3 separate regions of the Homo sapiens genome follow, and regions 2 and 3 are each linked to region 1. The links come from fine-mapping of genetic effects on gene expression. A gene starts in region 1. Each other region holds a variant in brackets. All regions are shown on one strand. Distances are between the middles of the regions. Region 1 holds the start of CXCR6 (C-X-C motif chemokine receptor 6). Region 2 has its middle 15 kb from the start of CCR1. Region 3 has its middle 47 kb from the start of XCR1.

Region 1 (8,000 bases):
AGTGATGCAGGTGAGGATGAGCATGGACGTGTAGAAGTTAATAGTGTAGATGCCCAGTAGGCTCTTGCACATGACCTGGCCAAACACCCATTCATGGATGCCTGCATAGGCCCAGAAGGGCAGAGTGCAGACAAACACCAGGTCAGCCAGGGGTAGGTTCACCAGGAACACATCCGTCAGGCTCTGCAACTTATGGTAGAAGATGGATATGACCAGCACCAGAGAGTTCCCCACCAGACCACAGACAAACACCACCAGGTACATGCAGGGCAGAAAGACCTTGCTGAACTGCAGGAAGTCTTGATGCTCCTCCTGGCTGCTGTCATTGAAACTGCTGAACCCATAGTCTTCATGGTAATCATGCTCTGCCATGGTGTCTGTTCTGATGAACACCTGTGAGTCAGAACCCAGGAATTATATTTGGGGCTGAGGATGGCATTCTTTGTCTTCCTGCTATCCCATTGACCACATTTAGGGGGCAAATAGTCATCTTCTAAACCCACCCACTGGGATGTGTAGAAACAGCACAGTCCAGTATATTGAAGATAACCAATTCTGAGGGGAAATTGCTCAGACAGGATGAGGACTCTCCATTAGCCTGAAAATTCTCAGGATCTCACCCATCTGGGAGACAACTCATAACTGACCCCTAAGCACATTCCATAAAATCCTGTGCTCAATTATTTTGAAACCAAAAGTCGCTTTGCTGCCAGGTGGGCACAGTGCTGTTTGGAAGAGCAACACTGATGATGGATGGTTGAGCCCACTGATAATATGAGCTCATCAATGGAACATGCCTGTTTTCATCTCCCCCTGCCTCACCACAGTTGCCCACCCATCCTGAGCCCCATTTCCTAATAAATTGTGAAAGCTAAAGCAAGTGCCCCTACCAGGGGGCTCTCCTATCAAGGAGACTCCTGGAGACCACAGGTGTTTGGGGATGGCAAGACTGCTCTGCCTGGGTAGGTAGTCCTTCCTGCCTTTACTTCCCCTCAATTGCATAGATTTTCAAAGGCTACTAATGGGGAAACAAAGCATAGAAAAGCCCACGACTGCCCAGCACTTTGGCTGAGCTGGCTTCATGGTTAAAGCATTGGGTGGTTCTCCTCACTTCCCAACTAAACTTTCCCCTTCATCAGTTAACACAGTTTATGGCATTCTACCATCAGAGCCTCATTTCCTGAAGACTTCTGAACAAGAAGTCTCTTAAAAGGTAGATTTCCCCAAAGCGGAACCTTGCCTTAGCTCCTGTGATTGGCAGGTTAGGACTTAGGGGCCTCATTTAACAAGCAGAAAACCCAATTGAAATGGGATGCCAGATGGGCAACCTTTCTTACCCAGGGCACCAGCCCTTCAAGATGTCACTTCTCTCTGACCCTTCCCTCTGCCCTGTGACCCTGCCAAAGACCATGGACAGGACAAGGGATCATGTAACCTGTGGTGTGGGAGCAGGGGCAGCTGCGGCAACATCAGCCCATGAGTGCCAAGTCTGCCCTTGCTACAGGACTGCAGATACTCAACATGCAGCAGCTCATTTCCAGTGACCTGGAGCCATGTCTGGCCAGCACCTCTAGAAGATGTATGAAGAAGAGCAGGTGTTTGGACAGAATCTCTGCCAGCAAAGTCAAAATATTGCCTGACCAGACAAGTGCATATAAACGATGAGGTTACCTTTCCTAATCCACTCAGAAACACTTCTGTCGCTGACTTTGAGTCCTGACTGGGAGCAGTGTCTCCGATGCTGCTGCTTGCCTCTGTCTTTCCAGGGACCAAAGTGCCCTTTCTCTCTAGCAAGGAAGGATGCTGCCTTTGGGCTAAGACTGCTTAATAAAAATCCTTGCCCTTACGTCACAATTGTTAGATCTCTAAGGGTGATAGGTCAGCCAGTAGACATCCTGCCCCCCACAAGCTCTCTGGGGCACTGTATTAAGTAGGTCAGATGATGTGTATGTGTTATTGATTCACATGGGCAAAAACATATTTTTTCATCATTTAAAATATGAAACAGGTGGCTTTGCTCTTAAGAATAATGTTCAGCTCCCCATTATTGCTTGACTCGCTCTCGCCTTTTTTTGGTATCTTCCTGTTCCAGCTTTTGCTGGTCCCTTATGCTGCCATTACACATTTCCTCAAAGGACCTGTGCAAATTCATGTGTAATAATTGGTAAACTTTGATGTATAATAATTGGTAAACAGATTGGGCCTGGACAGTGCTGTGCAAATAGAGTATGAAAAATTACTTTCCCTTCTAGGCGAACTAAAAACATTCATTTCTTTATCCTCTATAATTAAAATCCTATTTTGTTTTCTGAAAATTAAAAAAAAAATCTACAACTTTGGAAGTAGTGTAAAAGTCTGATAATGATGAAGCAAATTACAATTCATACATAAAATAGAATATACTTAAATGTTTAGGAAGTATTTTTACTGATTTTGGAAAATGCAATACAGTTAAATTGCTAAGAACAGTGTAAACACAAAGTAAATATGCAAAATAAGTATTAACTATTACTATTACAACAAATAGATGTCAAAAGGATATAAAATTGTGATTCTTAACCTTTTTTGACCATAAACTCCTTTGAGAATCTCCTAAAAACTGCAGACCTTTTCTCAGAAATAATGTATATATATATACACACACACACACACACACAGACACACACGCACACACACAAACACCCCTACAATTCTGGGAGTCCATGAACCCCTTGAATCCTTCTGCCATGTATTCTGTGGGCCCTCACATAAGAGTTCATGATAAACTATGTGATTTTAACTGACCGTACTTTTAGAAACCTGGAAAAAATGATCACATTTTATTAACAGTTGGCCTCCAGCTGGTGGAATTATGGGTGACTTATTTCTTCCTTTTTTTAAAATAGTTTTCAAAGTTTCTACAGTAGTATGTTGATTTATATTGAAAAAAGAACATAAATGATAATCTGATAAAACAGCCTGTCTTATGCAAAAGAAATGAAAACAGAGATTATTCATTGAGCAAATATAGACAATAACTAGATTCTCCTTATCTCCCTGGGTGGGTCTGACTATGCCATTACTAGCAGTACCATCAGCCTGCAAGCACTAACTGTGTGCCTGGAAACATGTTCAGTAGTTTTCATGTTTCTCCAGTTTAACCCACACAGCAGCAAATGGCAGTGATGGAATTTGAACGAAGAGCAGCTGAGCTCCATAGCCTGGCATTTTGCACTGTACCCTACTACAGACAGGAATCTGAGAATACCAACAATACCTGGGGTTAGTCCTCCCTGTCTTCTTTTCAATATAAAGAGTAAAACAAATGACTCACCAGCAGAGATGCTTTGCCAGTTTGTTCCAGAGATGAGCTTGCTCATGAAGCAAGGTCTGCCTCTACTTCTGTGATGTGGTTCATGTTTCCGCTGAACATTTTTTAAGAGCCCTCAGCTGGTTACTATAAGAGACCCACCCCCTACTCCCGTCCTTCAGATCAGAATCCATATGACCAACCCGCCCCTGTGTAACGCGTGGGTCAGAGATGGATGGGTGACTGATACCCCACACTCCCTTCATTCTGCTTTGGGGCTGATTCTTCTGTCAGGGCCTGACGAGCTTTATTCGTAAACTAAAGGGGAACAATAAGGAGGTTTGGCTCTGGCCATCCACCGAAGATGGTGGCATTTGTACCTTAAAATTACTTAATTCACTAGTCAGACATCTTTTTGGAACAGTTAGGGTCTGGGCCAATGCTGAGTCCATGGTATGGGCTGGGTTCTGCGTGCATATGCAGCTCCAGCATATGTGATAGCTGTTAAGCCCCATAGCAGCCCTGCAGTGGATATTATCCTGCCTTTATAGATGAGAACACTGAGGACCATAGCCAAAATAACAAGCCCTGGTGCACACAGCTAGAAACTGGAAAATCGAAGATACACACTCAGGTATCTGTCATTACCAGACCAATCAACAGCATGATGATGGGTCTGCCAGAGGGCCTGGTGCAGCCCCACCTCCTAAGCCCACACCACTCAGGCACTCAGCAGGCAGTGCCCACCCACCCTGCGTAGGCTGGCTGGAATCATCTGGTTTCCTTGGGCTGCCCTCTGTACTCCTGGAATTCCCCAGATGTTGACTACTTTGATCTCAGTACAGTTCTAGTTGTCAGTCTCCATGATCTAACATTACTGACCCTTCTGGGAAATAACGCTGGAAGGCAGGAATTGGAGGCATGTCAGCCTGGGTCACATGCCCCAGTGCCTTGTAGTGGAGAGGGTACTAGGGAGAGGCATGGACTCGATGTCTGCTTTCCCAGAAGCAGCTGCCTTCTTGTGGAGGTGCCTGGCCTGCCTTCTCTGGCTCTGCACTCCCATTCAGGCTGCTTCTCTCCAATGCTGTTGCTCTCTCCCACCTGCTAGGCAAACCTTCTCATGTGGCTCTTCCTAAGGGCAAATGTCAAGCATTGGGAGCAGGGACCAGGAGCAGCCTCAGGATCCAGAGACTAACACTCATTTCTACCGCAAGCCTGGCCCTATGCTGGATGCTTCTATGTACAGCCATCTAATCCTAGTCACGTACAGATAGGCAAACAGAAGATTAGAGAGATTAGCCCACTTGCCCAAGAACACACATCCCTGGCAGTCACCCAGGACTGTCAGGCTGCAAAGCCAGTGCTTCCTGCCCTGCTCTGAGTATGGAGCTGTGCCAGGGGGCCCTGATAAAAGATCTGAAGACCTCTAGTAGGTTTGCAGGCCTTTTTGAATGAATTCGTTCAGACTGTCCTTTCTACCAAACTGGTACAAATGAGTGAGGTGTTCCTTATGGGCATGAACCATGAGGCCGCATAGACTACATACCGATGGACAGATGGATGTAGGGAATGGTGGACAAATGAATAAAGGAACAGACTGAGCCAAATATGCACCTGTCTTCCTGAAAGAGAACTTTCAAGGCAGGGTGGCAATTTAATGTAACCCTGCCTGACATTTAGGAATCTTTAAGCTTTGAGAGCTGAGTTTTACCCAGGGACAACCAACCATGCCATTCAAGACAGGTCCATAGGGCAGTGTTAGAATGGCCTGAGCCTTGTCAAGCACCCTTGGCCATGCTTTTCTCAGCAAGCCTTTCTACTCCATGGGGAAAAACAAGCCAGCACCTGGGGCCCTCCATGACTGTGTGTACATGTCAATATGGGGATATGTGTATTTGAGAAAGCATGGCTTGTTTATCGTGGCCATTCTTTAATAGAAACTTCTCTATAGTACAAAAGACTTTCACCTAAATTTGAGGAGCTGAGCCACTTGCAGGTTTGGGGCTAAAATTTTATTTTAATCACTTTACAAAATGCCGTTTACTATCTGCCAATTTATAGTGTTAATTGTTTTAAGGGCATTACTTTTATTTGAAACAAAACTTTGAACTTCCTAAGGGTGGGAACCCAATCATATATGTCTTAGATTTCCCCAGAAATACCTAAACATTTTCTAAATAAAATTGAGGGAAGAGTAAAAAGGAAGTGGCAGACATACCTGCTGCAGATTTATCTTGGAAGTCAGACTGTTGGCCTGCTCTCCTTACCTGAAGACCTGGCAGAGCTGTTATCAGTTCCAGGATTCAGGGATGAGACATTTACAGTTGTTGGCAAGGCATTGGTGGATGATGGGCTGTGATCCACAGAAAAGTAGCCTAACCAGCCAGGCGTGGCAGTGGGCACTTATAGTCCCAGTACTCAAGAGGCTAAGATGAGAGGATCATTGAAGCCAGGAGTTTGAGGCCAGCCTGGGCAACATAGCCGGCAGACCTGTACCCCTGCAAGTCACCAGGATGAGCTGAGAGATCATCTGGTGGGAGCAGAGCCACTATGGCTGAGAGGAATTGTTCTGGAGGAACAATTGTTCTATAAGCAGGAGAGCAGGAGAAGGAAACCGCGTACAGGGGTTGACTACCTCCAGCGGAAGAAGGTGAGTTGTAGGAGTGTCTTACCACTAGGGAATGTGTCTGAGTCATGTGGCACCAAAGTATGTTAGCAGCAGCAAATCCATATGGGTCTGCAGCAACTCAAGTCTTGCCTCCTTGGAGGAAAGAATTTGGCCGAGGGGCAGAAGTAGGCTTAAGGCAGAGGGAGAGACTGAGGCAAGTTTTAGAGCAGGAGTGAAGGTTTATTAAAAAGTTTTAGAGCAGGAACAAATGGAAGTAAAGTATACTTGGAAGAGAGCCAAGCAGGTGACCTGAGAGATCCAAGTGCCCCATCCGGCCCTTGACTTGAGGTTTTATACATTGGCATGGTTCCAGGGTTTATGTTTCTTCTCCCCCGACTCTTCCCTTGGAGCAGGCTGTCCGCAGGCATGGTGGCTTGCCAGCACTTGGGAGGAGCTGCATGCTCAGACTGTTTACTGGAGGTGTATGCATGCTCATTTGAGGTGTTTTTCCCTTATCAGTCGTTTCTAGAGGAAGGTCACATACCGGTTAAACTGCCATTTTGCCTCTTAGTGTGCGTGCTTGAGCCCACTCGCCCAACTCCTGAGATCTTGTCAGGAAGCTGCTGATTACCAGCTTCAGATGTTTTCTATCTATTGGGAGACTCTTTCTCTGGCTCTGGCTGCAACCAGTTATTTTAGAGAGACAGCTTAACAATTGCCTGACCATTACTTGATGGTCACCTGACATTCCTGGGGGAGGGGGGCCCTCTCCTGCCCTGCTCATGTCTGCCTAGCTACCTACTCTAACACTAGGAATTTATAAGCAATGGATTAGCAAAGTAAAATCAAGTTAATACAATAATAATAATTTGATAGCAAAATTTAAAGATGCCCCCAGATCACAGAGTGAATATGATGTGTGTGGTGTGGTTCAGCCCAACCTTCCAAACCTGCACTGGTCAGTGGAGCCTTCTGCTGTGAGAGACCTGTGCTGTACCTGCACTGCCCAACACAGTGGCCACCAGTCCAGGTGGCTAGTGCCACTTGAATTGAGCACTTGAAATGTGGCTAATGCCACCAGGCAGCCACATTTTTAGTTAAATTTATCTGATGAATTTAAGTTTATATAGCCACATATGGCTAGTGGCTACTGTATTGAAGAGTGCAGTTCTAAACTGAAGACATCTCCATTTCACAGGAGACTGTTCACAAATGGAGGCTGACCAGAGGGACGATGGGAGCCTGTGTAATCAGGAAAACAACACTTCTCACTCTGCGGGGCTTAGCGAGGCTGAGGGGAGATGGCACCCTCTGGGGAAGATTGGCAGCAAGGCACCTTGGGCCATAGGGATTTTCCAGGCATCTGTTCCTCCCTCAGCTAGTTTCTAAACAAGCAGATCTGTACTGCAGGCAGTCTGCAGGATTAAAGTTGTGCAGTAATTACATAACAAACAGGCTGAGGCCATTTGAGTCGTGACAGGGAAGGACTATAGACTCCCATTTGTAGACACCAAGCTGAAGGGGCTCCACCATGACTCAGAGAGGTGTGGACTCCAGGACTACAGTGCCAGGGGCTGCCTGATTTGTGCTCACCACTTTATTCTGACTCGCTTCTAATGTGGAGCCTTGGGTATGTCCTCCTTTGGGAGCATTTGGGACAGAAGAAAACCTTACCCTGAGACAAATAATGTAGATATTCACTGGGCATGGGCTGTGTGCACAGCAGGCTGCCCAGGAATGCCAGGATGGCACCCACAAAGGGACAGACAAGTTGACGGACTAGAACATGTGCTCAAGAGATATTCACTCAACTGACCACAGGCTGCAGACAGAAACTCGGAAGGAAAGGGTGGCATGCCATCAGCCAAGCTAGCAGTAGGCTGCCATGACCAGAGCAAGGGGAGGAGGAAAGCCGCGTGGGCAGTGAGTATCTGGTATCTTTGCTGAGGCTGCCTCAATAGCAAGGAAAGGAAGCAGCTGTAGTAGGAGGTGGGGTGCCCTCTAGTGGTCATGCTTTGGTTGCTGTCCTTTCTCAAGCTCTTACATCCCTTGACATCCTCTGAGTTGCTTGAACATTTCCTACAACATCTCATGGTAAGAAAT
Region 2 (8,635 bases), 280 kb before region 1:
AGTTCTGAGAGGAAAATATGCAGCGCTAAATTCTTCCATTAGAAAAGAACAGTCTCGCATCAATAATCCAAGTTCTTTCCTCAAGAAACCAGAAAATGCAGAGCAAAATTAACTCAAAACAAGTAGAAAGGAGACAAAAATAAAGAGAAAATATAAATAAAATTGAAAACAGAAAAACAGTAGATAAAAATCAAAGAAACTTCCATCACAAGGGATGCAAGAGAAAAAAAGGCAAGGAAACAAAAAGCCAGTTTTTCAAAAAAATCAAGAAAAGTGATAAACCTCTAGCAAGACATACAAGAGAAAAAGAGAAGACATAAATCACCAATATCAGAAATAAAACGGGATATTACTACAGCTTCTTCAGCCATTAAAAGGAATAATAATAGAATACTATGAACTACTTTATTATCATAAATTCAACAATTCAGAAAAACTAGTTTGTTGAATATTGACATAGATAAAATATCTATGACAGAGTGATTTAACAAAATGTTTCAGCTGGGCGTGGTGGCTCAGGTCTGTAATCCCAGCACTTTGAGAGGCTGAGGCAGGGGCTGGGATTACCTGAGGTCAGGAGTTTGAGAACAGCCTGGTCAACATGGCAAAACCCTGTCTCTACTAAAAATACGAAAAATAAAAAAATAGCCAGGCATGGTGGCATGCACCCATAGTCCCAGCTACTCAGGAGGCTGAGGCATGAGAATCGCTTGAACCTGGGCAGCAGAGGTTGCAGTGAGCCGAGATCATGCCACTGCACTCCAGCCTGGGCAAAAGAGCAAGACTCCATCTCAATTAAAAAAGAAAATATATATATATATATATTTCACCTATTCATGGTAAACACTCAGCAAACTAAAAATAGAAAGACACTTCCTCAACTTGATAAACAGCATTTACAAAGAGTCTAGAGAAAACATTATACTTGATGGAGAAAGAATGAATGTTTTCCTCTAAGATCAAGAACAAAGCAAGGACGTCTACTCTCACCACTCCTATTCAACTGGAAGTTTAAGCCAGTGCAGTAAGACAAGAAAAATAAATAAAAGGCATACAGATTGGAAAGGAGGAAATAAAACTGTCCCTATTATTTAGGAAAGACATAGCGGTCTACATAGAAAATCCCAAGGTCAGTAAGATTGCAGGAACAAAACCAGGAAACAAAAGTCAATCACATTTATATGTACTAAGGAACATGTGGAAGCCAAAATTAACAATTTTTGTGCCATTTTCAGTTGCTCCAAAAAGCTTTTAGATGATACTTAGGTATAACTCTAGCTAAGTATGTACATGACTTGCATGCTGAAAACTACAAAATGCTGATAAAATAAATCAAAGAAGACCTAAATAAATATAGAGAGATATACCATGTTCATAGATTAGAAGACTCAACAGTAAAGATGTCAATTTTCCCCAAATTAATCCAAGGTTTAGGGAAATTTATATTATAGAAATTCCAGTGAAATTTTTATAGCCATTTGTAAGCTTATTATTCTTAAGTTTATATGGAAAGTCACAGGACCTAGAATAGCTAAAATAATTTTGAAAAACAATAATAAAGTGAGAGGAATCACTTACCTGATTTCATGACGTATTATATAGCTACAGTAATCCAGATAGAGTGATATTGGCAGAGAGATAGACATACTGATCAAAGAACAAATAGAGAACTCAGAACTAGACTCACAAATATGCTTAACTGTTTTTTGACAAAGGTGTAAAGCCATTAAATGGAGGGATAGTCTTTTCAAAAAATGGTGCTTGAGGAATTGTACATTCGTAGATAAACCAAAAAACAAAATGACCCTCAGCCTAAACCTCACACCTTATACAAGAAGTAACTCAAAAATGCAAACAACATATCTAACAAAATATTTGTTTAGAATATAAAGCATTCTCAAAACTCAAAAGCAAAAAAGCAAAAATTCCAATTAGAAAATGGTCAAAGATATGCACAGACATATCACTGAAGAGGATATACAGATAACCACTAAGCACATACAGAGATGTTCAATATCATTAGTCTTTAGGGAAATGCAAATTAAAACTACCATGAGATGTTACTACATACCTATCAGAATGGCTGAAATAAAGAATAGTAAAACAAACACTGGCAAGGATGCAGAGAAAATGAATCACTCATACTTTGCAGCTGGGAACATAAAATAATACAGCCATTATGAAAAAGAGCATGGCACTTTCTTACAAAACTAAATTCGTGCTTACAATACAACCCAGCAATTGTAGCTGGGTAATCCCGAGTAGCTGGGATTACAGGCAGGTGCCACCATGCCATGGACAATTTACCTAAAAAATGTTCAAAGATTTAAAGATTGAGATGGTAAGATGCCTAATGAGTTAATGCCTAAATCTTAAGTTTTTGCATGTGCACATACCCATGTAACCACCAGTCAAGACATTACTAGAACCCCAGAATGTTCCCTAGCACTTCTTCCCAGTCAGTACCCACCTCCATAGAGGTCATGTCTATTTTATTTCTATCACTGCTGATCAGTTTTGACCATTATTGAATTCATTATAAATGAGGTTATGTAGCATGCAGTAGCAATAGTTTGGTCTTTTATATTACTATATATAGTATTCTCTCATATGACTAATTTATCTGTTTTACTACTGATAAGAATTTTGGACTATCAGTTTGAGACTATTATGAATAAAGTTACTAACAACATTCTTGAACACATCTTTTGGGTTTATGTGCACTTCTCTTGGGTATTTACCTGGAAGTAGAATTGCTGGGTCACAGGGAAAGCACATGTTTAGCTTTACATACTGCTAAACAATTTTTCAAGTGGTTGTACCAATTTATACTTGCACCAGCATGGTGTGAGAGTTCTCATTGCCTCATAACCTTTTTAATACTTGGTATTGTCTATTGTCAGGGTTTGTTTTTTGTTGTTGATGGCTTTTTTTTTTTTTTTTTTTTTGACAGAGTCTTGCTCTGTTGCCCAGGCTGGAGTGCAGTGGCATGATCTCGGCTCACTGCAACCTCCGTCTCCCAGGCTCAAGCAATTCTGCTGCCTCAGTCTCCCAAGTAGCTGGGATTACAGGTGTGTGCCACGATGCCTGGCTAATTTTTGTATTTTTAGTAGAGACAGGGTTTCACCATGTTGGCCAGGATATCTCAAACTCCTCACCTCAGGTAATCTGCCCGCCTCAGCCTCCCAAAGTGCTGGGATTACAGGTGTGAGCCACCGTGCCCAGCTAATTTTTGTATTTTTATTAGAGATGGGGTTTCACCATGTTGGTGTTAGCCAGGCTGGTCCTGAACTCCTGGCCTCAGGTAATCTGCCTGCCTCAGCCTCCCAAAGTGCTGGGATTACAGGTGTGAGCCACCGTGCCTGGCCCAGGGTTTGGTTTTTTGTTGATGTTGTTTTGCGTTTTTTTCATTTTAGCCATTCTGGTGGTTATGTGCTGCTGTCTCATTGGTTCGTCTCATTAAAACCAGTGGTTTTAATTTGCATTTCTCAAATGATTAGTGATGCAGAGCACATTTTCACATACATGTTAGTTATTTGGATATCCTCATCTATGAAGTTTCTAATCAAGTCTTTTGCCTATTTAAAAAACAAGAGGCCATTGGTCCTTTTCTTATTAACTGGCAGGAGTATTTAATCGATTTTGTATATGCATCCCTTTATTTGAAAGAGCTCTCCCTGAGCTGTTTCTGGCTGTGGGCACTCATGCTGCTTTCTACCCAGCTCCTGGCACACCCTGATCACACCCGATGGAGACTCTATTTACCGACACCTCTGGGCTTATGTTTCTGAACCTGCTCAAGTCATCCACTGTCCTCTAGTACCTCTATCCATGTCCCATACCTGCACCAGCACCCTGTCCGTGGCCAAGTTTCAGGCAAGCCATGGGATCTAAAATGTCTCTCTCCCTTCTTTGTCAGGAGCCAAAAGAATTCTTGCTTCCTGAAACTGAGGCAGGCTGAAAGGGAAAACAGATTGATACAAGTGACACGTGATAATGTCACTCTGAATAAAAGAGGTCAAACTGTACTTATCAATAGTCACACATACATACATGCACACACACACCTGCATGCATGTACACAACATGCATGCACACACACAAGCATCAACTTTAATCAGCAAGTCCTTACACTGACCACCTCTTATATATATGCATCTCAGTGCTGGGTACTGTGGAAAACATATGAAAAAGGATTGGGCATGGGCCCAGCAGCTGAGAAGCTTACAATTTAGCTGGAGAGAAAAGATGTAATACAGATAACATGATATAAAATGCTGTGTATTAGACTGTATGTAAGCCCAGACTCAAAAGAGATTTTATTTGTTTGTTTGTTTGTTTTCAAGACAGAGTCTTGCTCTGTCACCCAGGCTGGAGTGCAGTGGCACGATCTCGGCTCACTGCAACCTCCACATCCTGGGCTCAAGCAGTTCTCCTCCCTCTGCTGGGATTACAGATGTCCACCACCACACCCAGCTAATTTTTGTATTTTTAGTAGAGACAGGGTTTCACCACATTGGCCAGGCTGGTCTCGAACTCCTGACCTCATGATCCA[C/A]CCACCTCAGCCTCCCAAAGTGTTAGGATTACAGGCGTGAGCCAACACACCTGGCCTCAAAAGAGTTTTAAAACTTGGCATGCAAGACTGTAAGTGTTAACTTGGGCTGGACCTGGACAGGGAGTTTTTAGAGCACTTCCTTAATATACTTTCTCCTTCCCCTTTTTAGCATGAAGGGTTTCTTGACAATTTTCTTGCACATAGGAGACATTCAACAGATGTTTACCAGTTTGACTGAGGCATAGGATGAGGAAATAAATAGCCACGTAGCTCCCATCGGCTGAACATTTACCAAGTGCCAGACACATATTGAATCATATTTAATTATTGCAACAATCCTGAGAAAGAAATATTACTCTCACTATTTTAAACGTGGGGAAGCTGAGGTTCTGACAAGCGGTAAATAAAAATGCCCAAGGTGGCATGGCTGGCATCTGAGGGCTGTGCCAGGTCTGGTGTGCTGGAGGACTTGCTGCCTGTGGCAAGGTGCTGCCATTGTCTGTTGCTTGAACAAGGTGAGGAGCGCAGCATGCCTGGCCATGCATGATGTCTGAAGTTAGAGCCCAGGACCTAGGGCACTAGATCTGTGGGGTGGGGCCCTGAAAGATTAAGGGACTCTGGAGGTTTTTCTCCTGAGTTCTCTACTAGCCTGGCAGTACCCTTCAAGAAGAATCCTAGGGCTTCCTGATAGGTAGCTTCAGAGGCAAGGCAGCAGCAAGAGGGCGACAAATTAAATAAGAGAAAGTAACGCAACCAGGCTGCCTGTCAGCCCCTGTAACTTCTCCAGATTATCATACTGGACCCATCACTTGCCCAGTCTAGCTAGAAGTTCATCTATCCCCATGAAACCCCCATCTCCCCACCTCCACCATGGCCATCCAGGAATGCCCTAGGTGTGCCATACTCTGTGGCTGCTGTGTTGATATGGATTGGTGGTGTGGCATGATACATGGTCCTGCTTCCTCTGTCTCACTGCTCTGAAACAGGAATTCAGACATGGGTCCTTTGATGTGGAGAGTGTCACGCCTTATTGTCCTAGAGAGTGGGACAGCCTGGGAGGCCTGCCTATCTGACCTTCAGGGCTCCTGCCCAGTCCTCAGGGGGAATCTTCAGTGCCAGTTTGTGTGGAGGAAGCCTGTGGGAAATTGTGTGGACAGCAGTGGCAAGAGAGGGGCTGGGGAGGGACTAGGGGGCACACGGGAAGAGGAAAGGCAGGCAGAGCTAAGTGAGGGGTGGCGGCCAGTCAGGGGCCCAGACACACTCCTTCATGGACCCCCTTCTTTGTCTTCAGTGGTCTTGGGTAGGTCTGCTTTGCAAGGGGCAAAAGAACACAGGATGATCCTTTGGAAGAAGTGAATGTGCATTTCAACAACCGGAAACCTGCCAGGGGTTCTTGGAGGAAAGCAAGCTCAAAAATGAAGGCTTAAGCAAAACAAAATAGCCCACCCCGCAGAATAACCCACAGAGGGAAAAGGAAGACAGGAATAAGACTAAAAGTCTAGAAAAGGGAAGTGCAAATTGGGTTCAAGATGCCTCAACTGCAGGCAGAGCCGTGTGGTTTGAACTGTTTGTGTGACTTGAAACATAGCCCAGCCAAGGTCAGGACCTCTCTTTGTGAAGGATTGGGCTGCGGGGGGCATGTGAGGGGTGCATCTTGCATGTGCAGGAATACCCCTACAACTAGGGAATCAGGCCCCAGCTGCTAGTGGGAAGAGCAGATATTCAAGTAAAAGCTATTTCTGCTGAAACCAAAGATTTATATAAACTCAGATACAGTATTTGTTGCTGTTGTCAGATCCATTTGTCCTTGAAGACTTAAGATGAAAGAAATGCAAACATCTTCCCTGTACATTCATGGCCTATAGGTACTCTGCAATGGTGTGCTGGTAAATGTTAACAACCAGCTTTCTGGAGGAAGAATCAAAACAGGCACAACATGCCTGATATAATAGCATCAATTTCCAGTTTCCTTGGTGTAAATACTCTCCGTGGCCAAGTTCAAGTTGTGAACTTAATATCACTAAGGCGAAGGTGGGTCTAACAGAGTTTAGGTAACCATAATAACAGAGTTTGTTGAGTTTACATTATTTGCTAAATTCTTCATGTGCATCATTTTATTTTATTATTTCAATAGTTTTTGGGGAACACGTGGTGTTTGGTTACATGGATAAGTTCCTTAGGTGTGATTTCTGAGATTTTGGTACCCCCATCACCTAAGCAGTGTACACTGCACCCAGCGTGTAGTCTTTAATCCCTTGTCTCTTTCCCACCCTTCCGTCTAAGTCTCCAGAGTCCATTATGTCATTCTGATGCCTTTATATCCTCACAGCATAGCTTCCACTTATAGGTGAGACCATAGGATGTTTGGTTTTCCACTCCTGAGTTACTTCACTTGGAATAATGGTCTCCAACTCCATCCAGGTTGCTGGGAATGACATTATTTTGTTCCTTTTTGTGGCTGAGTAGAATTCCATGGTATATGTATATCACATTTTCTTTATCCACTCGTTAGTTGACGGACATTTACTTTGGTTCCATATTTTTGCAATTGTGAATTGCGCTGCTGTAAAGATGCATGTGCAGGTGCCTTTTTCATTGTAACGACTTCTTTTCCTCTGGGTAGATACCCAGTAGTGGGATTGCTGAATCAAATGGTAGTTCTACTTTTGGTTCTTTAAGGAATCTCCATACTGTTTTCTATAGTGGTTGTACTAGTTTACATGCCCAGCAGCAGTGTAAAAATATTCTCTTTTCACCACATCCCTGCCAACATCTATTATTATTATCTATTATTTTTTGATTTTTTAATTATGGCCATTCTTGCAGGAGTAAGATGATATTGCATTGTGGTTTTGATTTGCATTTCCCTGATAATTAGTGATGTTGGGCATTTTTTCATATGTTTGTTGTCCACTTGTGTATCTTCTTTTCAGAATTGTCTACTCATGTCCTTAGCCCGCTTTTTGATGGGATTATTTGTTCTTTTCTTGCTGATTTAAGTTCCTTGTAAATTCTGGATATTCACCATTTTGTCAGATGCACAGTTTGCAAAGATTTTCTCCCACTCTGTGGGTTGTCTGTTTACTCTGCTGATTATTACTTTTGCTATGCAGAAGCTTTTTAGTTTAATTCAGTCCCATCTATTTATCTTTGTTTTTGTTGCATTTGCTTTTGGGTTCTTGGACATGAACTCTTTGCTTAGGCCAATGTCTAGGAGAGTTCTTCTGATGTTATCTTCTAGACTTTTCATGGTTTCAGGTCTTAGATTTAAGTCTTTTATCCATCTTGAGATGATTTTTGTCTAAGGTGAGAGATGAGGATTCAGTTTCATTCTTCTACATGTGGTTTGACAATTATCCCAGTACCATTCGTTGGAAAGGGTGTCCTTTCCCCACTTTATGTTTTTGTTTGCTTTGTCAAAGATCAGTTGGTTGTAAGTATTTGGCTTTATTTCTGGGTTCTCTATTCTGTTCCATTGGTCTATCTGCCTGTGCCTATTTTTATACCAGTACCACGCTGTTTTGGTAACTATAGCCTTGTAGTATAGTTTGAAGTTGGGTAATATGAGGCCTCCAGATTTGTTCTTTTTGTTTAGTCTTGCTTTGGCTTTGTGGGCTCTTTTTTGGTTCCATATGAATTATAGGATTTTTTTTCTAGTTCTGTGAAGAATGATGATGACATTTTGATGAGAATTGCATTGAATTTATAGATTGCTTTAGGCAGTATGGTCATTTTCATAACATTGATTCTACCTGTCCGTGAGCATGGGATGTGTTTCTATTTGTTTGTGTCATCTATGATTTCGTTCAGCAGTGTTTGGTAGTTTTCCCTGTAGAGATCTTTCACCTCTTTGATTAGGTATATTCCTAAGTATTTTATAATATTATTTTTTGCAGCTGTTATAAAAGGGGTTGAGGTTTTGATTTGATTCTCAGCTTGGTTGCTGTTGGTGTATAGCAGTGCTACTGATTTTTGTACATTGATTTTGTATCCTGAAACTTTACTGAATTCCTTTATCAGATCTAGGAGCTTTTTGGATGAGTCTTTAGAGTTTTCTAGGTATGTGATCATATCATGGGC
Region 3 (8,635 bases), 130 kb before region 1:
AAGTCTGAATTTCAAACAATAGGAAGCAGCTGCAATTTTAAAAGCGTGCTATGTAAAGCAAAACCACCAATGTCAAATTGCCAATGCCTGGACCCAGACCTCCCTTCCCCAAGGCAGAGGTGAAAAAACGCTGTTCCCCCTACCCTTTTTCTTTTCTGGAACCCAAATCTCCTGCCCATTAGGCACAGATGGAAAACTCCCATTCTAGTAAGGGAGGATCGGAAAACATAGCTCAGGCAAAATCTAGACCTTCAACCAAAAAATGGGAAAGGCCCAGATCTCAGCAGGACTCATACCTTACATTCAACAATTTCTCTCAAAGTCAGAATACAAGAGGTTCCCAGAGCTGGCCAGGCGCTGAGTCTGGGAGGTAAGTCAGATAGTAGAGCCAAGGGGGTTATTCTGAATCCTTCTCATGGCACCAAAAATGCTGACCCCAAAGGAAGAAGATGAGGCACAAAATATATTCATAATTTTGAAGACTTTACTTGAGCCAACATGAGGCCAGCTGCTCAGGACACACTTCCAAGTTGCTTTGGGGAGTGCCGCATCCAGCCTTTGTTGCGAGCAGGCTTTTTAAAAAATAATTTCAACTTTTATTTTAGATTCAGGGGGTTACATGTGCATGTTTGTTACATGGCTATATTGCATGATGCTGAAGTTTGGGGTACAAATGATGCCATCAGCCAGGTAGCGACCATGGTACCCAATAGGTGGTTTTTCAGTCTTTGCCCCTTTCCTTCTCTCCCCACTCTAATAGTCCCCAATGTGTGTTGTTCCCAGCTTTATGTCCCTGTGTGCCTAATGTTTAGCTCTCACTTATAAGTGAGAACGTGCGGTATTTGGTATTCTGTTCCTGTGTTAATTCACTTAGAATAATTGTCTCCAGCTGCATCCATTCAGGCAGGTTTTTAAAGACAAAAAGTGAGCAAGGAGTGGACTGATACAAAGCTATTTGACAGGAATTCTCATTGGTTTGCAGAAATAACATTGATTAGTGATTGGCTTTATGTTGTTGAGCTACAGCAGTGGTCCCCAAAATTTTGGCACCAGGGACGAGTTTCATGGAAGACAATTTTTCCACAGACCTAGGAGGAGTAGGGGAGATGGTTTGGGGATGAAGCAAGTGCATTACATTTATTGTGCACTTTATTTCTATTATTGTTACATTGTAATATATAATGAAATACATGACTCACCATAATGTAGAATCAGTAAGAGCCCTGAGCTTGTTTTCCTGCAACTAGATGGTCCCATCTGGAGGTGATGGGAGACAGTGGCAGATCATTAGGAATTAGATTTTCGTAAGGAGCATGCAACCTAGGTCCCTCGCATGCACAGTTCACAATAGGGTTTGCACTTCTATGAGAATCTAATACTGCTGCTGATCTGACAGGAGGAGGACCTCCGGTGGTAATACTAGAAATGGGTAGCAGCAGATAAAGTTTTGCTCACTTGCCTGCCCACTGCTTACCTCCTGCTGTGCAGCCTAGTTCCTAACTGGTCTGCGTCCCAGAGGTTGAGGACCCCTGAGCTAGAGGATATGAGTTGTGGCATCCATGATTATGGTATATGGCATTTTATAGCTACGTGGCATCAGTTAGTCCAGAGCCCACAGCAAGTGGCTTCAAGAGGTAACTACTTAGCTCAAGCAGGGACTGAGATGTGACAGCTTTTTACTCCAAAGCCTTTCTGGGCTGGATATATTAAAGGGGTTTGTATTCCTCACATAAAAAGTTTCTTTTCTCTCTCAGTGCTCACACAGGGGTCAGCTTTACCCCAGTGAGATGAAATTCAAGTGCAATCCTTGACTTCTCCTATGGCAAGTCCAAGTATTCTTTCCTCAGAAGTGACAATATTACTTCAATAGAGGGCAGTGGCCCACAGCAAATTTCTCTAGCATCTGGAAAGTGAAACTATCAAGAAGGCCAACCTGATAAGGTCAGTTTGGGACCATTGAGGTATAGCCCCTTGTTTTCTATGCCCCAGCATAGAAACTTTCCTCCTTCCCAGGGAAATATGTGAACTAAACAGGAGCCACAATTCTGTCTTTTAACTTTGCTGCTGCTGATTTCAATGATATCCTATTTTTTTTTTTTTTTTCAAAATAATGGCTACCATTTGTTAAGCTTCTACAAAATGGCAATCATTGACCAACATCACATCTAAAGCACTCAACTCTGCAAGATGAGTGTCTTTCTCATTTTACAGCTGAGGAAGCTGAGGCACAAAATATATTAATAATTTTGAAGACTTTACTTGAGCCAATGTGGGGCCAGCTCAGACAAAATATTCAGCCAAGAAGTAGGAACGGCCCAGATTTCAGCAGGACTCATACCTTACATTCAACAATTTCTCTCAAAGCCAGAAGAATACAAGGGGTTCCCAGAGCTGGCCAAGTGCTGAGTGTGGGTGGTATGTCAGATGGTAGAGACAAGGGTATCTTTCAAATTTGCCTAAATTGTAGGACCACATGGAGTAATTGTTTTGCATACAAAATCCAAGTCTCCCCTGGGCAGTGGTTCTTAATCTTAGCTGCTCATGGAATCACTTGGGGCAGGGTTGGAAGGTGACTGTTAAAAAATCTTGGTGGCCCAGGCCAGCACTATCTATCCTGTTGGCTCTTTTTCCTGGAGAACCCTGACTAACACATATGGTGCGTGCTTGGTTTTTAAGAGGCTGCTATACTCTTTTCAGAGTGGCTATGCCATGTTACATTCCCCAAACTAGATAGCAAAGTATGAGATATCTAGATTTTTCCACATCCTTGTCAGAATTTGGTATTGCCACTATTTTTACTGTTTTAACTATTATGATACATATGTGATAATATCTTATCATGGTCTTAATTTGCCTTTCCCTTGTAGCTAGTGACATTGAATATATTTTCATGTGCTCATTTGCCATTTGAAAAATCCTCTTCCATGAAATGTCTCTTCAAGTCATTTCCTATTTTTTAACTGAATTGGTTGTTTTTTGTTTGTTTGTTTTGTTTTCTTTTTAAATGTTGAATTTTGAGGATTCTATATATATTTTAGACATGAGCTATTTGTCTGATATGTGGTTGGAAAATATTTTCTCCCATTCTGGAGATGGTCTTAACAGGGCCTTTTGCAGGGCAAATGTTTTTCATTTTAATAGTTTATCTATTCTTTCTTTTATGTATTATATTTTTGGTGTTATGTCCAAGAACTCTTCACCAAGATTTAGGTCTCAAAGATTTTCTCTTATGTTTTCTTCTTAAAGTTTTATAGTTTATCCATTACATTTATATCAATGATCCAATTTGAGTTAATTTGTGTATAAGGTCAAAGGTTTAGATTGAGGTTTCTTGGTTTTGATTTTTGTTGTTTTTTTTTTTTTTTTTTTTTTGGTCTATGAGCATCTAGTTGCTCTAGCACTATTTGTTGAAAAGACTATCCTTCCCTCATTGACTTGCTTTGGCACCACTGTCAAAAACCAGTGGGCCATACTTGTGTGGGGCTACTTCTGGGTTTTTTTAACTCTCTTCCATTAATCTTTGTGTCTGTCCCTCTGCCAATATCACATATTACTATAGCTATGAAATAAGTCTTAAAATTGGGTAGAGTGATTCTTCCCATTTCATTCCTTTTCAAAGTGCTAATTATTCTTTAAATATTTGAAATAGTTTCCAGTTAAACTCTCTGGGCCTGGAAATTTTTTTCTTGGGAGATTTTAATTATGAATTCAATGTCCTTAGTAGTTACAGGGCTATTCAAATTATCTGTTTCATAGATGAGTTATAGTAGTCTGTGCTTTTTGAAGAGTGGGTTTATCTCATCTAAGTTGACAAGTTTTATGTGTGTAGAGTTGTTCACAGTACAGTTGATTCTTGAACAACATGGGTTTAAACTGGGAAGGTCCACTTAAATCCAAAATTTCGTCTACCTTTGCCACCCCTGAAACAGTAAGACCAACCCCTCCTCTTCCTCTTCCTCCTTTAGCCTACTCAGTGTGAAGACAATGAGGATGAAAGCCTTTATGATGACCTACTTCCACATAATGAATAGTAAATATATTTTTCTTCCTTATGATTTTTTTTAAAATATAAATTTAAGTGGTACAATTGCATTGTTACATGGATATATTACATAATGATGACGTCTTGGCTTCTAGTGTATCTATCACCCAAATAATGTACATTGTACCCATTAAATAATTTCTCATCCTTCACCCCCCACCACTACCTCCCGTTCTTCTGAGTCTCCAGTGTGTATTACTCCACATTCTATGTCCATGTGTATACATTATTTAGCTCCCACTTATGAAGGAGAACGTGCAGTATTTGACTTTCTGTTTCTGAGTTGTTTTACTTAAGATAATGACCTCTATCACTTGAGCCTTGGGGGTTGAGGCTGCAATGAGTCATGATTGTGCCATTGCACTCTAGCCTGGGCAACAGAAAAGAGACCCTGTCTCAAAAAAAAAAAAAAAAAAAAAAAAAAGATGGCCTTCAGTTCCATTCGTGTTGCTGCTTTATGGCTGAATAATAATTCCATTGCATATATATTGTAAATTGTGCTGTGATAAACATGCATGTGCAAGTTATCTCTGATATAACTATTTTCTTTTCCTTTGGGTAGATACCCAGTAGTGGGGTTGCTGGATTCAATGGTAGTTCTACTTTTAGTTCTTTGAGAAATCTCCATATTATTTTCCAAAGAGGTTGTACTAATTTACATTCCCACCAACAATGTATAAGAGTTCCCTTTTCTTCACATCTTCACCAGTATCTGTTGGGTTTTTTTTTTTTAATTGCCATTCTGATTGGTGTAAGATGGTATCATGTTCTGGTTTTCATCTGCATTTCTCTGATGATTTGTAATAATGAGCATTTTTTCATATGCTTTTTGGTCATTTGTATATCTTCTTTTAAAATGTCTATTCATGTCCTTTGCCCACTTTTTAATGGGGTTATTTGTATTTTGTTGTTGTTGAGTTGTTTGAATTCCTTGTAAATTCTGGATATTAGTCCCCTGTCAGATGCATAAGTCGCAAATATTTTCTCCCATTCTGCAGGCTCTCTGTCCACTCTGTTGTTTATTTCTGTTGTTTTTGTTTTTTGTTTTTTGTTTAAGAATCTCACTCTGTCTCTCAGGATGAAGTACAGTGGCATGATCTCAGCTCACTGCAACCTCCGGCTCTCAGGCTTCAAGCAATTCTCATGCCTCAGCCTCCCAAGTAGCTGGGATTACAGGTGTGTGCCACCATGCCCAGCTAATATTTTAGTAGAGATGGGATTTTGCCATGTTGGCCAAGCTGGTCTG[G/A]AACTCCAGGCCTCAAGTGATCTGCCCGCCTCAGCCTCCCAAAGTGTTGGGATTATAGATGTGAACCACTGCACCCAGCATCTGTTATTTATTTCTTTTGGTGTGCAGAAGAGTTTAACTAAGTCCCACTTGTCTATTTTTGTCTTTGTCATATGTACTTTTGAGATATTAGTCATTAATTCTTTGCCTATACCAATGTCTCGTTTTTCCTAGGTTTTCTTCTAGTATTTTTATAGTTTTGAGTCTTATATTTAAGTCTTGAATCTATCTTGAGTTGATTTTTTTATGTGGTGAGAGATATGGTTCCAATTTCATTCTTCTGCATATCGCAATTCAATTTTTCCAGCACCATTTATTGAACAGGGTATCTTTTCCCCAGTGTGTGTTTTTGTCAGCTCTGTCAAAGATCAATTGTCTCTAAATATGTGGTTTTATTTCTGGGTTCTCTATTCTGTCATACTGATCTATATGTCTACCTTTATACTAGTACCATGCTGTTTTGGTTACTATAGCCTTGTAGTATAATTTGAACTCAGATAATGTGATGCCTCCAGCTTTGTTCATTTTGCTTAGGAATACTTTAGCTATTCAGGCTCTTTTTTGGTTGCATACAAATTTTAGAATTTGTTTCTAATTCCAATAAATTATCAACATCATTTTTCTAATGATAGGAATTGCATTGAATCTGTAGATTTCTGTGGGCAGTATGGTCATTTTGACAATATTAATTCTTCTGATCCATGAACATGAGATATTTGTCCTTTTATTTGGGTCATCTATAATTTCTTTCATCAGTGTTTTGCTGCTTTTCTTGTAGAGCTCTTTCACCTCCTTGGTTAAATTTATTTCCAGGATTTTTTGTTTTGTTTTTATTTGTTTTATTTTCACTGAGACAAGGTCCCTCTCAGCCACCCAAGCTGGAGTACATTGGTACGATGTCTGCCTCCCAGACTCAAGCAATCTTCCCACCTCAGCCTCCCAAGTAACTGGGACTCTAGGTGTGCACCACCATGCCCAGCTAATTTTTTGTATTTTTTGTAGAAACAGGATTTCACCATGTTGCCCAGGCTGGTCTCGAACTGCTGGGCTCAAGCGATCTGCCCACCTCAGCCTCCCAAGATGCTGGGATTACAGGCATGAGCCACCATACCCAGCCTAAGGTGGTTTGTTGTTGTTGTTGTTTTAATTTTAGTTATTGTAAATGGGATTGCTGTCTTGATTTGGTTCTCAGCTTGATCATTATTGGTTTATAGAAATGCTACTGATTTTTGTCTGTTGATTTTGTATCCTGAAACTTTACTGAATTCATTTATTAAATCTAAAGGATTTAGTATTTTCTAGATATAAGATCATAACCTCAGCAAGCAGAAATAATTTTACTACCTCTTTTCCAATGTGGATTTTTAAAATTTGTTTCTCTTGCCTCATTCCTCTGGCTAGGACTTCCAGTATTATGTTAAATAGGAGTGGTAAATGTGGACATTCTTGACTTGTTCCAGTTCTTGGAGGGAATGCTTTCAACTTTCCACCGTTCAGTATGAGGTTGGCTATGGGTTTGTCATATATGGGGCTTTATTATTTTATGGTATGTTCCTTCTGTGCCTAGTTTGTTGAGTGTTTTTATCATGAGGTGATGCTGAATTTTATCAGATGGTTTTTCTATATCTATTGAGATGATCATATGGCTTATGTCCTTAGTTCTGTTTATGTGGTGAATCACATGTATTGATTTGCATATGTTGAATCATCCTTGTATCCTTGGAATAAAACCCAGTTGATCATCCTGTATTATCTTTTGGATATGCTCTTGGATTCTATTTGCTAGTATTTTGTTGAGGATTTTTGTATCTATGTTCACGGGGAATGTTGCTCTGTAGTTTTCTTTTCTTCTTGTATCCTTGTCTTTAGTATCAGGGTGATACTGGCTTTGTGGAATGAGTCAGGGTGAATTCCCTCCTCAATTTTTTAGAACAGTATCAGGAAGATTGGTACAGTTCTTCTCTTTACATTTGGCAGACTTCATCTGTGAATCCATCTGGTGCTGGCCTTTTTTTGAAACTTAAAAAAAAGCCACCTGGGCCTGGGATTTTTTGGAATAAAAAATCTGGCAATTTTTTTTATTATCGATGCATTCTCATTACTTGTTATTTGTATGTTCAGAATTTCTATTTCTTCCTTGTTTAATATCAGTAGGCTGTATATTTCCAGGAATTTATCCATTTCCTCTAGGTTTCTAGTTTATGACTATATAGTTGTTCATAATAGTCTCTAATGATCTTTTGTATTTCTGTGGTATCAGTTGCAATGTCTCATTTTCATTTCTGAGTATGTTTATTTGGATCTCCTCTCTTCTTTTGTACAAGAAATGCTCAAAGGAGTACTAAAGATGGAAACAAAAGGTTGGTATTCACCATCATAAAACCACATGAGAATATAAAAACTCACAGGTTTCATAAAACAATTACACAAAGGAGGAAGAGGAAGGAATCAAATGGCAACATGACAGAATACCACCAAACCACAAAGACAACAGACAAAGGAAGAAAAAGCCAAGAATTGATAAAACAACTAGATAACAATTAACAATATGACAGGAACAAAATGTCACATATCAATATTAACCTTGAATGTAAGTGGATTAAATGTTCCACTTACAAGATAAAGACTGACATAATGGATTAAAAAAACAAGATCAAACTGCATGCTGCTTACGAGGAACTCAACTTTTTGGTAGACACATATATACTGAAAGTAAAGGGGTGGAAAAAGATATTCCACACAAACAGAAACCAAAAGGAAGCAGGAGTAGCTATAGTTGTATCAGATAAAACACACCTTAAAAAAACCCAAGGGTCATTATATATAATGATAAAGGGATCAATTCAACAAAAGAATATAACAATCCTAAATATATATGCAGCCAACACCACAGCACTCAGATTAATAAAACAAATATTACTAGATCTAAAGAAAGAGATGGACAATAACACAATAATAGTGAGGGACTTCAGCATCCCACCTACAGCATTAGATAGATCATTGAGACAGAAAATTAACAAAGAAACATTGGACTTAAATTGGACTTTAGACCAAATGGACCTAATAGACATTTACAGAACATTCCACTCAAAACTATAGAATATACCTTCTTCTCATCAGCATATGGAACATTCTCCAAGATAGATCATCTGTGAGGCTGCAAACCAAGTCTCAATGCATTTTTAAAGATCAAAATCATATCAAGTATATTCTCAGATCATAGTGGAATAAAACTAGAAATCAATAACAAGAACTCTGGAAACTATAAAAATACATGAAATTAAGTAACATGCTCCTGAATAATCTTG

Evidence for each region.
Region 2: its variant is fine-mapped to the expression of CXCR6 in whole blood (TOPMed, PIP 0.94).
Region 3: its variant is fine-mapped to the expression of CXCR6 in whole blood (TOPMed, PIP above 0.99).

The regions. Positions count from the first base shown.
Region 1 is chr3:45,938,854-45,946,853 of GRCh38, reverse strand. CXCR6 (C-X-C motif chemokine receptor 6) reads right to left here and starts at 3,390. Exons shown (of 2, transcript NM_006564.2): 1 at 3,314-3,390; 2 at 1-393. The coding sequence starts at 372. All of the region lies in intron 14 of FYCO1 (FYVE and coiled-coil domain autophagy adaptor 1), which reads left to right.
Region 2 is chr3:46,219,048-46,227,682 of GRCh38, reverse strand. It overlaps a transcript of CCR3 not described here. Among named protein-coding and RNA genes, the nearest start is that of CCR1, 15 kb to the right of the region's middle. RefSeq lists an enhancer at 5,846-6,015. The variant C/A (reference allele first, on the strand shown) is at 4,556.
Region 3 is chr3:46,070,046-46,078,680 of GRCh38, reverse strand. It overlaps a transcript of XCR1 not described here. Among named protein-coding and RNA genes, the nearest start is that of XCR1, 47 kb to the right of the region's middle. The variant G/A (reference allele first, on the strand shown) is at 5,289.